Homo sapiens: one gene and its partners. The protein of the gene in region 3 purifies or fractionates together with the protein of the main gene of each other region. This does not show direct contact. Each region holds a gene or a part of one and is shown on either strand. Other genes may lie near its edges.

What was found.
Region 1: the proteins of NEK8 (region 3) and CAPG purify together in Homo sapiens (affinity purification with mass spectrometry; one large-scale study listed by BioGRID and IntAct). This does not show direct contact.
Region 2: the proteins of NEK8 (region 3) and SLC25A13 purify together in Homo sapiens (affinity purification with mass spectrometry; one large-scale study listed by BioGRID and IntAct). This does not show direct contact.

The regions. Positions count from the first base shown.
Region 1 is NC_000002.12:85,403,798-85,407,449, reverse strand, and holds part of CAPG (macrophage-capping protein), read left to right. Parts: intron 1-3,652. UniProt on the Homo sapiens protein: Calcium-sensitive protein which reversibly blocks the barbed ends of actin filaments but does not sever preformed actin filaments. May play an important role in macrophage function.
Region 2 is NC_000007.14:96,179,032-96,182,683, forward strand, and holds part of SLC25A13 (electrogenic aspartate/glutamate antiporter SLC25A13, mitochondrial), read right to left. Parts: intron 1-3,652. UniProt on the Homo sapiens protein: Mitochondrial electrogenic aspartate/glutamate antiporter that favors efflux of aspartate and entry of glutamate and proton within the mitochondria as part of the malate-aspartate shuttle.
Region 3 is NC_000017.11:28,735,144-28,738,795, forward strand, and holds part of NEK8 (serine/threonine-protein kinase Nek8), read left to right. Parts: intron 1-96; coding exon 97-228; intron 229-2,162; coding exon 2,163-2,371; intron 2,372-2,531; coding exon 2,532-2,593; intron 2,594-2,675; coding exon 2,676-2,857; intron 2,858-2,951; coding exon 2,952-3,102; intron 3,103-3,527; coding exon 3,528-3,604; intron 3,605-3,652. UniProt on the Homo sapiens protein: Required for renal tubular integrity. May regulate local cytoskeletal structure in kidney tubule epithelial cells. May regulate ciliary biogenesis through targeting of proteins to the cilia.

The DNA of each region.
Region 1 (3,652 bases), on a different chromosome or scaffold from region 3:
TGAGCCACCATGCCTGGCTGGCACTGGGGTTTTTCAAAAGCCCCCAAATGATTCTAATGTGCAGGTGAGCATTTGACACTGTTCTGGACAGAATTCACTGGCACTACTACCATCACTTTGAACATATGTTCAAAATATGGGTGATCAAGCCCCATTCCAGACCTGTGGAATCAGAATCCCCAGACCAGGGGCTTGGGCACTGTTAAAGAAAAAAAATATGGCCCAGGCGCAGTGCCTCACGCCTGTAATCCTAGCACTTTGGGAAGCCAAGGTGGGCAATCACTGGAGGTCAGGAGTTCAAGACCAGCCTGACTGACATGGTGAAACCTCACCTCTACTAAAAGTACAAAAAATTAGCCAGATGTGGTGGTGCACGCCTCTAATCCCACTACACAGGAGGCTGAGGCAGGAGAATTGCTTCAACTCAGGAGGCAGAGGTTGCAATGAGCTGAGACTGTGCCACTGCGCTCCAGCCTGGGCAGCAGAGTGAAACTCTGTCTCAAAAAAAAAAAAAAGAAAATTACTAAGAGGAAACATCAAGGGTAAAGAGATTCTGGCTAGACTGAGCTAACAGGATTCCTTTTTTTTTTTGAGACGGAGTTTCGCTCTTGTTGCCCAGGTTGGAGTGCAATGGCATGATCTCAGCTCACTGCAACCTCTGCCTTCCGGGTTCAAGTGATTCTCCTGCCTCAGCCTCCCGAATAGCTGGGATTACAGGCATGAGCCACGAAGCCCAGCTAATTTTGTATTTTTAGTAGAGATGGGGTTTCTCCATGTTGGTCAGGCTGGTCTCGAACTCCCGACCTCAGGTGATCTGCCCGCCTTGGCCTCCCAAAGTGCTGGGATTACAGGCATGAGCCACTGTGCCCGGCCCCTAACAGGATTCTTGCTGAATACAGGCCAGAGTGATCAGACATCACTGGGGCGGCGGGGGCAGGGTGTTGAGGAACCCAATCAGATATCCACGATTATCAGATCGACCAGATATCAAGGGTAGGGGGTTCTAGGTAAATGGCCTTAGCAGGGTTCTTTTGCTAAAACCGGATTTTACAAGCACACAGATGGGCCTACGGGGTGGTTCAGAAGCCTAGTTAAAGTTTGGCCAAGCAAAGAATCTTTGTCAGTACCGACATTTTAATAAGGTCCCAAGGTCATTCTAATGAGCAGCCAAACTCCTTTCTTTTCTTTTTTTTTTTTTGAAACCGAGTCTCACTCCATTGCCCAGGCTGGAGTGCAGTGGCATGGATCTTGGCTCACTGCAACCTCCGCCTCCCAGGTTCAAGTGATTTCCGGATAATTTTTGTGCTTTTAGTAGAGACGGGGTTTCACCATGTTGGCCAGGCTGGTTTCGAACTCCTGACCTCAAGTGAACTGCTCACCACGGCCTCCCAAAGTGCTAGGATTACAGGCGTGAGCCACCGCACCCGGCCTGCCAAACCCCTTTCATCCAAACCCTGATGTGGCTCTCTGGCATGTAGGCTGCCTGATTTTGAGTTAAACACAGAATGAAAAATAGTAAAGGTGACAATTGGCGCACTCCGTGTCTCATTCTTGAGCGCTCCCTGATGGCTTGAGCTTGGGGCAGCCACTTCACCAGCTCAGGCCTGAGTCACAGGCTGGGCTGCCTGTTGCAGGGGATGTGGGCACAGCATGTGATCCTCTGTGGGATGGAGAAACGTTAAAGTTTCCCTCCGCAAACCTCTGCTCTCTGCATGTCCTCTTCCGGAATCGTGGTGCCAAAATATGCCTTCCACTATTTTGTAGGTTGGGAAAGGAAAAGGAAAGTCATAATTCACACAGCATTTCACATCCATTATCACTGCCCTTGACCTGTCCCTCTTTGTTTCCTACTCAGACTTAATACCTTCTGCTCTGTCATCTGCCTTCCCCCTACCCCTGACTTCCCTGGCCCCTGCGAAATATTGCACTTCCTGATCCTGCTGCCCCAGCCCCCAAGAATCTCCTAATGGTGCCAGCTTGCATTTTTACCCTCCAATTCCCCAAGCCCTTACCCTGTGCCACTGGGGCTCATCTTACACAAACTCTGTCCAAATGGATGCACAGCATGAATTGTATTATGTACGAAGTGCATGCTGGCTCTGTGATCTCTGCATTTTGAGCCAAAAAAAGAAATCCTCTAGTGATGGGAACCTATGAAAGCGACAGTGAGTGGAGCCGTAGCTGTTGCATTTTCTGAATTTTTTAAAAAGATAATATCTTTTTAAAAAATACTTGCGTTTAGCATTTTTTCCCTTGAATGACTTTTGTCCAGAAAAAGTGTTCATCATTCTGGCATTTGAGGGAAGCTGGGCATACAGAATTGATAGCTGATGCCTGGGAGTGGGTGAAATTTCTCAGGGAGGGAGTTTAGAATTAGAGCAGCCATTAAATATAATGTTAGGTGAAGGGTTTTTGTTTGTTTGTTGTATTTTAATAGATGCCTTTTTAACAGGTTAAGGAAATTTCTTTCTATTCCTAGTTTGTGGGTAAAAAAAAAATTTTTTTTTTTTTTTTGAGAGGGGGTTTTACTCTGTCATCCAGGTTGCAGTTCAGTGGCATGATCTTGGCTTACTGCAGCCTCTATCTCCTGGGCTCAAGCGATACTCACTCCTCAGCCTCCTGAGTAGCTGGGATCTGGAATTACAGGCTTGCACTACCACATTTGGCTGATTTTTATTTATTTTATTTTATTTTATTTTTTTGAGACAGAGTCTTGCTCTGTCACCCAGGCTGGAGTGCAGTGGCACAATCTCAGCTCACTGCAACCTCTGCCTCCTGGGTTCAAGCAATTCTCCTGCCTCAGCCTCCCAAGTAGCTGGGATTACAGACGCATGCCACCATGCCCAGCTAATTTTTGTATTTTAGTAGAGACAGGGTTTCACCATGTTGGCCAGGCTGGTCTCGAACTCCTGACCTCGTGATCCACCCACCTCGGCCTCCCAAAGTGCTGGAATTACAGGTGTGAGCCACTGCACCTGGCCTTGGCTGATTTTTAAAATTTTTGTAGGGTTGTGGTCTCCTTATATTGCCCAGGCTTGAAAAAATTTTAAACTAGGAATGAATGTAGAATTTTGCTAAATGCTGTTTCTGCATCTATTGAGGTGATTACACATACATGTTTGTTAATAGGGTGTATAGCATTGATTTTCAAATTTTGGCCTGTTTTTTTTTTTTTTGCGTTGTGAGCGGCTTTATTTATTTATTTTAAATTTATAATTGACAGATAATAATTGCACATACTTAGCAGGAGCAGTGTGATGTTTCATTGTACATATGCAATGTATGTGTATATATTGTATAATGATCAAATCAAGGTAATTAGCATATCCATCACTTTAAACATTTATCATTTCTTTGTGATGATAACATTCAAATCCTCTCTTCTGGCTATCTTGAAATATACACTGCATTATTATTAGCTATCATCACCCTGATTTTCAGATATTAAACCAACCTTGCATTCCTGGGATAAACCTCATTTGGTCATCATGGTTTATTTTTTATATATTATTTGATTTCATTTGCTAAAATTTTGTTAATTTTTTTTTTTTTTTTTTTTTTTTGAGATGGAGTCTCACTCTGTCACCCAGGCTGGAGTACAATGGCATGGGCTTAGCTCACTGCAGCCTCTGCCTCTTGGGTTCAAGCAATT
Region 2 (3,652 bases), on a different chromosome or scaffold from region 3:
TCTGTTATCTTAGCTATGGCTCAGGATGCCTTTGGGAGACAAAGTGTTAAAACATAAAATAAGTGATTATGATTATGGTCTGGAAAAAAATCAGTTCCTCAACTCCTCTATTCTGGGGCTTTCTAGAAGTAAAGAGAATTGGGGAAAACGATCAGATACTCCTGCAGTTTTTCACCATAGTACATGAGAACGTTCAGGATCCTGGTTATCTTTTCTTCTATCTAAACTATTTCCCTCCTACTGAGGTTTAATCTATCTCCCTTGTTTTAGTCTCAGCAACAGTAGCTGGTTATAAATTATCATTTTTGAGGTGTGGAACTAATTCATTCATTAACCTCTTCTCTAGGATACCTACACGTCTATCTTTTTGTCATATTTTTCCAATTTTCTAAGGTCATCAGTTGTTACTGTAGCACTCTCAAGTCTCTAACAATTCTCTCACCCACCTTAGATCCAGTGTGTGTCGCCTCAGTCTCAGATTACAATGCCCTGTGCTCACTAAAGTTAGCTCACTGTAGATTTCTGGAGATTGGCTAACCCAACAAATGATCTGTTGAAATCTTCTGCTCATTCTTATGTGGCTTCCTATAACCAAATACATGTCTTCTGATATTTTTATAGCTTAATGCTCTAAATGAAAACGTGCAGAAATTGGCCAAGAAAATAAAGACTCAAACCTATCCATTTTGCAATCATTAAAAGTTTTGGTGGACATGGATGGACATGAGTGCAGTTCACAGATTAACTATGGTTTGTTTCAAGATGCATGTGTTCTTAAGTAATGCAAAACAGTCATGGAAATTTCAATCATTTTATTTTGGTGCCAGAATTTTAAAGTTTATTTTATCCCCATGAATTATGCAAGAATGAAGAATCTCACTGTGATTCTAAAGAATCTGGATACTCCCTTTTATAGTACCATCAATGATAAGGGACCTGGCTTAAACTAGCTGCCTGCCAAAACTTCCCTCTGCAATATAAAAGTATCAATAACTCCCTGAGATATCACCACAACATCCTCTAGATGTCACCTTGAGAACATTCCAGGATGGAAGATGACTGCTTTGCACTACACAGACAACTTGAAATAGAAATATTTACAACTCTGCAAGCTTGGATCAATGGGCTGATTAAAAAATGTGGTTTTTTTTTTGCCAATTTCCTCAAAGGTTAAGCACTGCTTAAATTAAGTTTAATTCATAAAATGATCTAATTACTCTTTCTGGGAGATTTTCTTTAGGGCTTCTCCCATCAATAGAAACAAAAATTTTCGTCTAAGAAGTATTTCTGATAGACCCTGATTTCTATCTCTTTTTTTTTCTAAATTGAGACAGAGTTTCACTCTTGTCTCCCAGGCAGGAATGCAGCGGCACAATCTCAGATCACTGCATCCTCCTGGGTTCAAGCGATTCTCCTGCCTCAGCCTGTAGCTGCGATTACAGGCCCGCCATTATGCCCAGCCAATTTTTGTATTTTTAGTAGAGACAGAGTTTGGCCATGTTGGCCAGGCTGGTCTTGAACTCCTGACCTCAGGTGATCCACCCGCCTCGGTCTCCCAAAGTGCTGGGATTACAGGCATAAGCCACCGTACCCGGCCATATTTCTCTTAATACATCTTTTTCCCCAAGATTCTCCCAAAACATTTTCCAGTGTCTAAGGCTGCTCATCTCATCACCTGAAAGATCTGAGAGAGAAGACTGCAACAAAGTTTAAAAGCAGAAATTATTTATTCCTGGAACATTAAGAGCATTTAATTATGGATGATTACCCAATCAATTGTTGTTCTTTAATACGCCAGATCTATAGCAGGCCAATGACTGATTCATTTGGTTATGCCAGTCATTCAAACCAAACAAGTTGTCAGGTAATTCATTAAGGATTTCAAATACCTGAGCACATTAAATCACTCTGAAGACTGGGGAGGAAACAGAGAAAGAATTTTAAAAGTGACTTCAGGAAGACCTGGATTATCTCAGGTGTGATTTCCCTTAATACAGACAGGCTTGGCCTGGGGGTTGGATTTTCAGAAATAACAACAACAACAACAACAACAAACTAGGAAAATTTGCCATTTTCTTGTTAGGAAAAAAGTAGTTTGCACTGTAGAGAAGGTTTGCAGAGCCAGACTCATGGGATTTTTAAGGAGCTCTTTTCCAGCAACTAAAACTTACACAAAAATAGGAGAGAGGCTCCTGGAAATAAAGAAAACGGAGTTATACCAATACATGGAGAGCAGGAATTAACCAACTCACAACACCTCTCATGACTCTCTGAGGTATATTTCTATTGAAGAGCACTGCTAGGCACTCTCTCATGACTACCAAGCAACTTCCACAACTATTCTGATGCAGCCAGCTGCGGGGGAGGCAAAGAACAAAACTTGTGGTGGAGCACTACAAGAGTTCTTTTAAAATAACCTTCATTCTAATGCCACAGGGAAAGGCTTTTAAATGCAAAAACAGCTTCTGATATTCTTGTTATAAGAAAAAGAGATATTTATTAACCTCATAATAAGATCGCATGCTACAAAAACACCTTCTTTGAGGCCAGATGCCAACTTTTTTCAAAGTATACACAAAGGTAATTTTAAAGTAGGAGAAAGATCTTACAACTGCAACATTCCCAAATTATCTCATTCAGGAAATATGAGCAATTACATAGGCCTTGATAGAGAAAAATTACATGTTGAGCAAAATTCTGTAATACTAAAAACTATGCTCAATATTTAAAAACATGTATGAATTAAAGATGTACTCTGATACCTTCTCAAATATTGCTAGGTGAAAGCATTAATAGCAGCAATACTATATTTTCCTAATTTAAACGTAACAGTTTTCCTCTGGAATAATATAATTTTAAAATAAAGTTACATTTTATGAGAAATGTACAAAGAATCACATATAGGTATTTCATAATGTGACTTTGTACATAAAGGTGATAATACTGAGTCTCAGAAATATGTCAGGTCTTTTTTACTTATATTGTAATTTTTTAAATTAACAACAATAACCATGAGTTACCTACATTTTCATCTGATCTCTCTTACCCAATAAGCACTTACAAATATGCAGTTATATACAATTATTAATTATTGATGATGTACAAGAAACTAAAGAGAACTGATCCCTGACCAATCAAGAATAGGAACAAGTCATTTTCATGGCAAAGTTATGTATCATTATTATTTTAACCTGAACTGTCAGTCATCATTTTGCTCTCAAGATGATCCAAATTACAGAATGGGACTAAACAAAAATTTTACAGTAAATTTTTTGTTTTAAAATGGTTTACCAGAAAAGATATCAGGAAGAAATGAACACAGGTGACTCCTAGAACTAATCTTATATTCACACTCTACTCATCATCCTGACAGACAGCTCTGTCTCTTGCCCTTAAGGTTGGGGCACCCAAAGATAAATGGCCATTTCTAAACCAGGAAAAGGGTGAAGAGCTGCCACTTGGGTGTTTACAGTGAGCCTCTGTCTGTACCTAATATATTGACTTACTACTCCTCTGAGAAGTTAAAAGCAGTCACTCTCATCTTACAGATAAAAGAACTGAAACGGCAAGAGTGGAAGCCTCTTTGCATAGCCCACATTAGCTCAGCACTCAGTACTCAGGCACACTTCTAGTTGCCAACAGTACAGGTTGC
Region 3 (3,652 bases):
CTTGCTTTGAGAAGAAGCTGTCCCCAAATGGGCTTATGCACAGAGCCCCTGGTCTTCCCTCCCTGCAGGGCTGTGATCCCAGCTTCTATCCTGCAGGTGGTGGGTACCCCATGCTATATCTCCCCTGAGCTGTGTGAGGGCAAGCCCTACAACCAGAAGAGTGACATCTGGGCCCTGGGCTGTGTCCTCTACGAGCTGGCCAGCCTCAAGAGGGCTTTCGAGGCTGCGGTGAGTGTATGCACCCTCCAGGGGACAACTGAGAAATCTACTGCCTCGCCCAGCAGCCCTTGGCTCAAGCCACCTCAGGTTTCTCCTCTAGCTGAGTCATGTCTCTCCCTTATCAGATTACCCCAGGGGAGGGCTATGGGTGTCCCTCAGACTATGGATTTCTGAGAGTAGGTCTTGCCTCCCATTAGACGGAGGGCTCCTGAGGGCAGGGCTGTGGCTTTCCCAGAAGACCCTCCCAAGAGCAAGACTTGAGTTTTCCCAGCATGCTGGGGTTTCTGAGGATATAGCTGCAGCTCCCCTATCAGACTAGGGATCACTGAAAGCCAGGTTGGACTCCCCTGTCAGTCTGGGAGTCTCCTCATCAGACTGAAGTCTCCTGAGGGCAAAGCTGTTATTGTTTATTTATTTATTTTTTTTATTATACTTTAAGTTTTAGGGCACATGTACACAACGTGCAGGTTTGATACGTATGTATACATGTGCGATGTTGGTGTGCTGCACCCATTAACTCATCATTTAACATTAGGTATATCTCCTAATGCTATCCCTTCCCCCTCCCCCCACCCCACAACAGGCCCCGGTGTGTGATGTTCCCCTTCCTGTGTCCATGTGTTCTCATTGTTCAATTCCCACCTATGAGTGAGAACATGCGGTGTTTGGTTTTTTGTCCTTGCGATAGTTTGCTGAGAATGATGGTTTCCAGCTCCATCCATGTCCTACAAAGGACATGAACTCATCATTTTTTACGGCTGCATAGTTTTCCATGGTGTGTATGTGCCACGTTTTCTTAATCCATCTATCATTGTTGGACATTTAGGTTGGTTCCAAGTCTTTGCTATTGTGAATAGTGCCACAATAAACATACGTGTGCATGTGTCTTTATAGCAGCATGATTTATAATCCTTTGGGTATACACCCAGTAATGGGATGGCTGGGTCAAATGGTATTTCTAGTTCTAGATCCCTGAGGAATCGCCACACTGACTTCCACAATGGTTGAACTAGTTTACAGTCCCACCAACAGTGTAAAAGTGTTCCTATTTCTCCACATCCTCTCCAGCACTTGTTGTTTCCTGACTTTTTAAAGATCACCATTCTAACTGGTGTGAGATGGTATCTCATTGTGGTTTTGATTTGCATTTCTTGATGGCCAGTGATGATGAGCATTTTTTCATGTGTCTTTTGGCTGCATAAATGTCTTCTTTTGAGAAGTGTCTGTTCATATCCTTCGCCCACTTGTTGATGGGGTTGTTTTTTTCTTGTAAATTTGTTTGAGTTCTTTGTAGATTCTGGATATTAGCCCTTTGTCAGATGAGTAGATTGCAAAAATCTTCTCCCATTCTGTAGGTTGCCTGTTCACTCTGATGGTAGTTTCTTTTGCTGTGCAGAAGCTCTTTAGTTTAATTAGATCCCATTTGTCAATTTTGGCTTTTGTTGCCATTGCTTTTGGTGTTTTAGACATGAAGTCCTTGCCCATGCCTATGTCCTGAATGGTATTGCCTAGGTATTCTTCTAGGGGTTTGATGGTTTTAGGTCTAACATGTAAGTCTTTAGTCCATCTTGAATTAATTTTTGTATAAGGTGTAAGGAAGGGATCCAGTTTCAGCTTTCTACATATGGCTAGCCAGTTTTCCCAGCACCATTTATTAAATAGGGAATCCTTTCCCCATTTCTTGTTTTTCTCAGGTTTGTCAAAGATCAGATAGTTGTAGATGTGTGGCATTATTTCTGAGGGCTCTGTTCTGTTCCATTGGTCTATATCTCTGTTTTGGTACCAGTACCATGCTGTTTTGGTTACTGTAGCCTTGTAGTATAGTTTGAAGTCAGGTAGCATGATGCCTCCAGGCAAAGCTGTTATTATCCCAGGAGACCAGGGGCTGGAGCTGGGGGGTGCTGCCCTCACTTCCCCAAATTCTCAACCTGGTGCCTTCACAGAACTTGCCAGCACTGGTGCTGAAGATCATGAGTGGCACCTTTGCACCTATCTCTGACCGGTACAGCCCTGAGCTTCGCCAGCTGGTCCTGAGTCTACTCAGCCTGGAGCCTGCCCAGCGGCCACCACTCAGCCACATCATGGCACAGCCCCTCTGCATCCGTGCCCTCCTCAACCTCCACACCGACGTGGGCAGTGTCCGCATGCGGAGGCCTGTGCAGGGACAGCGAGCGGTCCTGGGCGGCAGGGTGTGGGCACCCAGTGGGAGCACAGGAGGTCTGAGGCAGAGGGAAACCTGGGGCAAGTCCTCCCTTCCTGCATGTAGGAATGTCAGGAGGGTCTTTGTCCTTAGGCCCCCATCTGTCCTGCAGGGCAGAGAAGTCCGTGGCCCCCAGCAACACAGGGAGCAGGACCACCAGTGTCCGCTGCAGAGGTAAGTGGGAAGAGGCCGCCAGTCCCCATGGATGCCACACCATTCCCATCAGTTTAATAGTCCCCATGCACTGTACCTGCAGGTATCCCCCGGGGACCTGTGAGGCCAGCCATCCCACCACCACTGTCGTCAGTGTATGCCTGGGGTGGTGGGCTGGGCACCCCCCTGCGGCTGCCAATGCTCAACACAGAGGTGGTCCAGGTGGCAGCTGGGCGCACGCAGAAAGCCGGCGTCACGCGCTCTGGGCGTCTCATCCTGTGGGAGGTGAGCAGGCCAGGGGGTGGCCTGGATGGGTGGAGGTGGAGGTCCACAGCAGGGTTGGGGTGCTCAGGCGCTGCCCATCCCCCTGCCCCTGCAGGCCCCACCCCTAGGTGCAGGCGGAGGCAGTCTCCTTCCTGGGGCAGTGGAGCAGCCACAGCCCCAGTTCATCTCGCGTTTCCTGGAGGGCCAGTCGGGTGTGACCATCAAGCACGTGGCCTGTGGGGACTTCTTCACTGCCTGCCTGACTGGTGAGTTGTCGGGCCTACCTTGTGGGACCTGCTCTGAGGCCCCACAGAGCACCTTCTCTCTTCTCTTGCAAAACACGCACTTAATGAATGCTTCTGTCTACTAGTTATCGAGTTATTGCTTCTGTCTAGTAACTATTGAGGAGATTTCCTTATACAACCTCCTTTACCCTACGGACAGGCCTGGCAAGGCAGTTATTATATTATCCTCATTTGACAAGTGGGGACGCTAAGGCTCAGAGAGGGTGTCACTTGTCCAAAGTCACATATGTTTGAAGGGACTCATATCCTTTTCTCTCTTCCTATCCCATCCTTCCAGCCCTGGTCCCCAACTTTATTTTGCTGCTGCAACCCACTGGAGGACCGGGCTATCTGGAAAGACTGTTTAACTTCTTTCCCTTCTCCTTCCTCACTGCCCTTCTCCCCAGACAGAGGCATCATCATGACATTCGGCAGCGGCAGCAATGGGTGCCTAGGCCATGGCAGCCTCACTGACATCAGCCAGGTGGGTGTCACATATACCTTGGGAAGGGGAAGTCGGGGGATGGCGGGG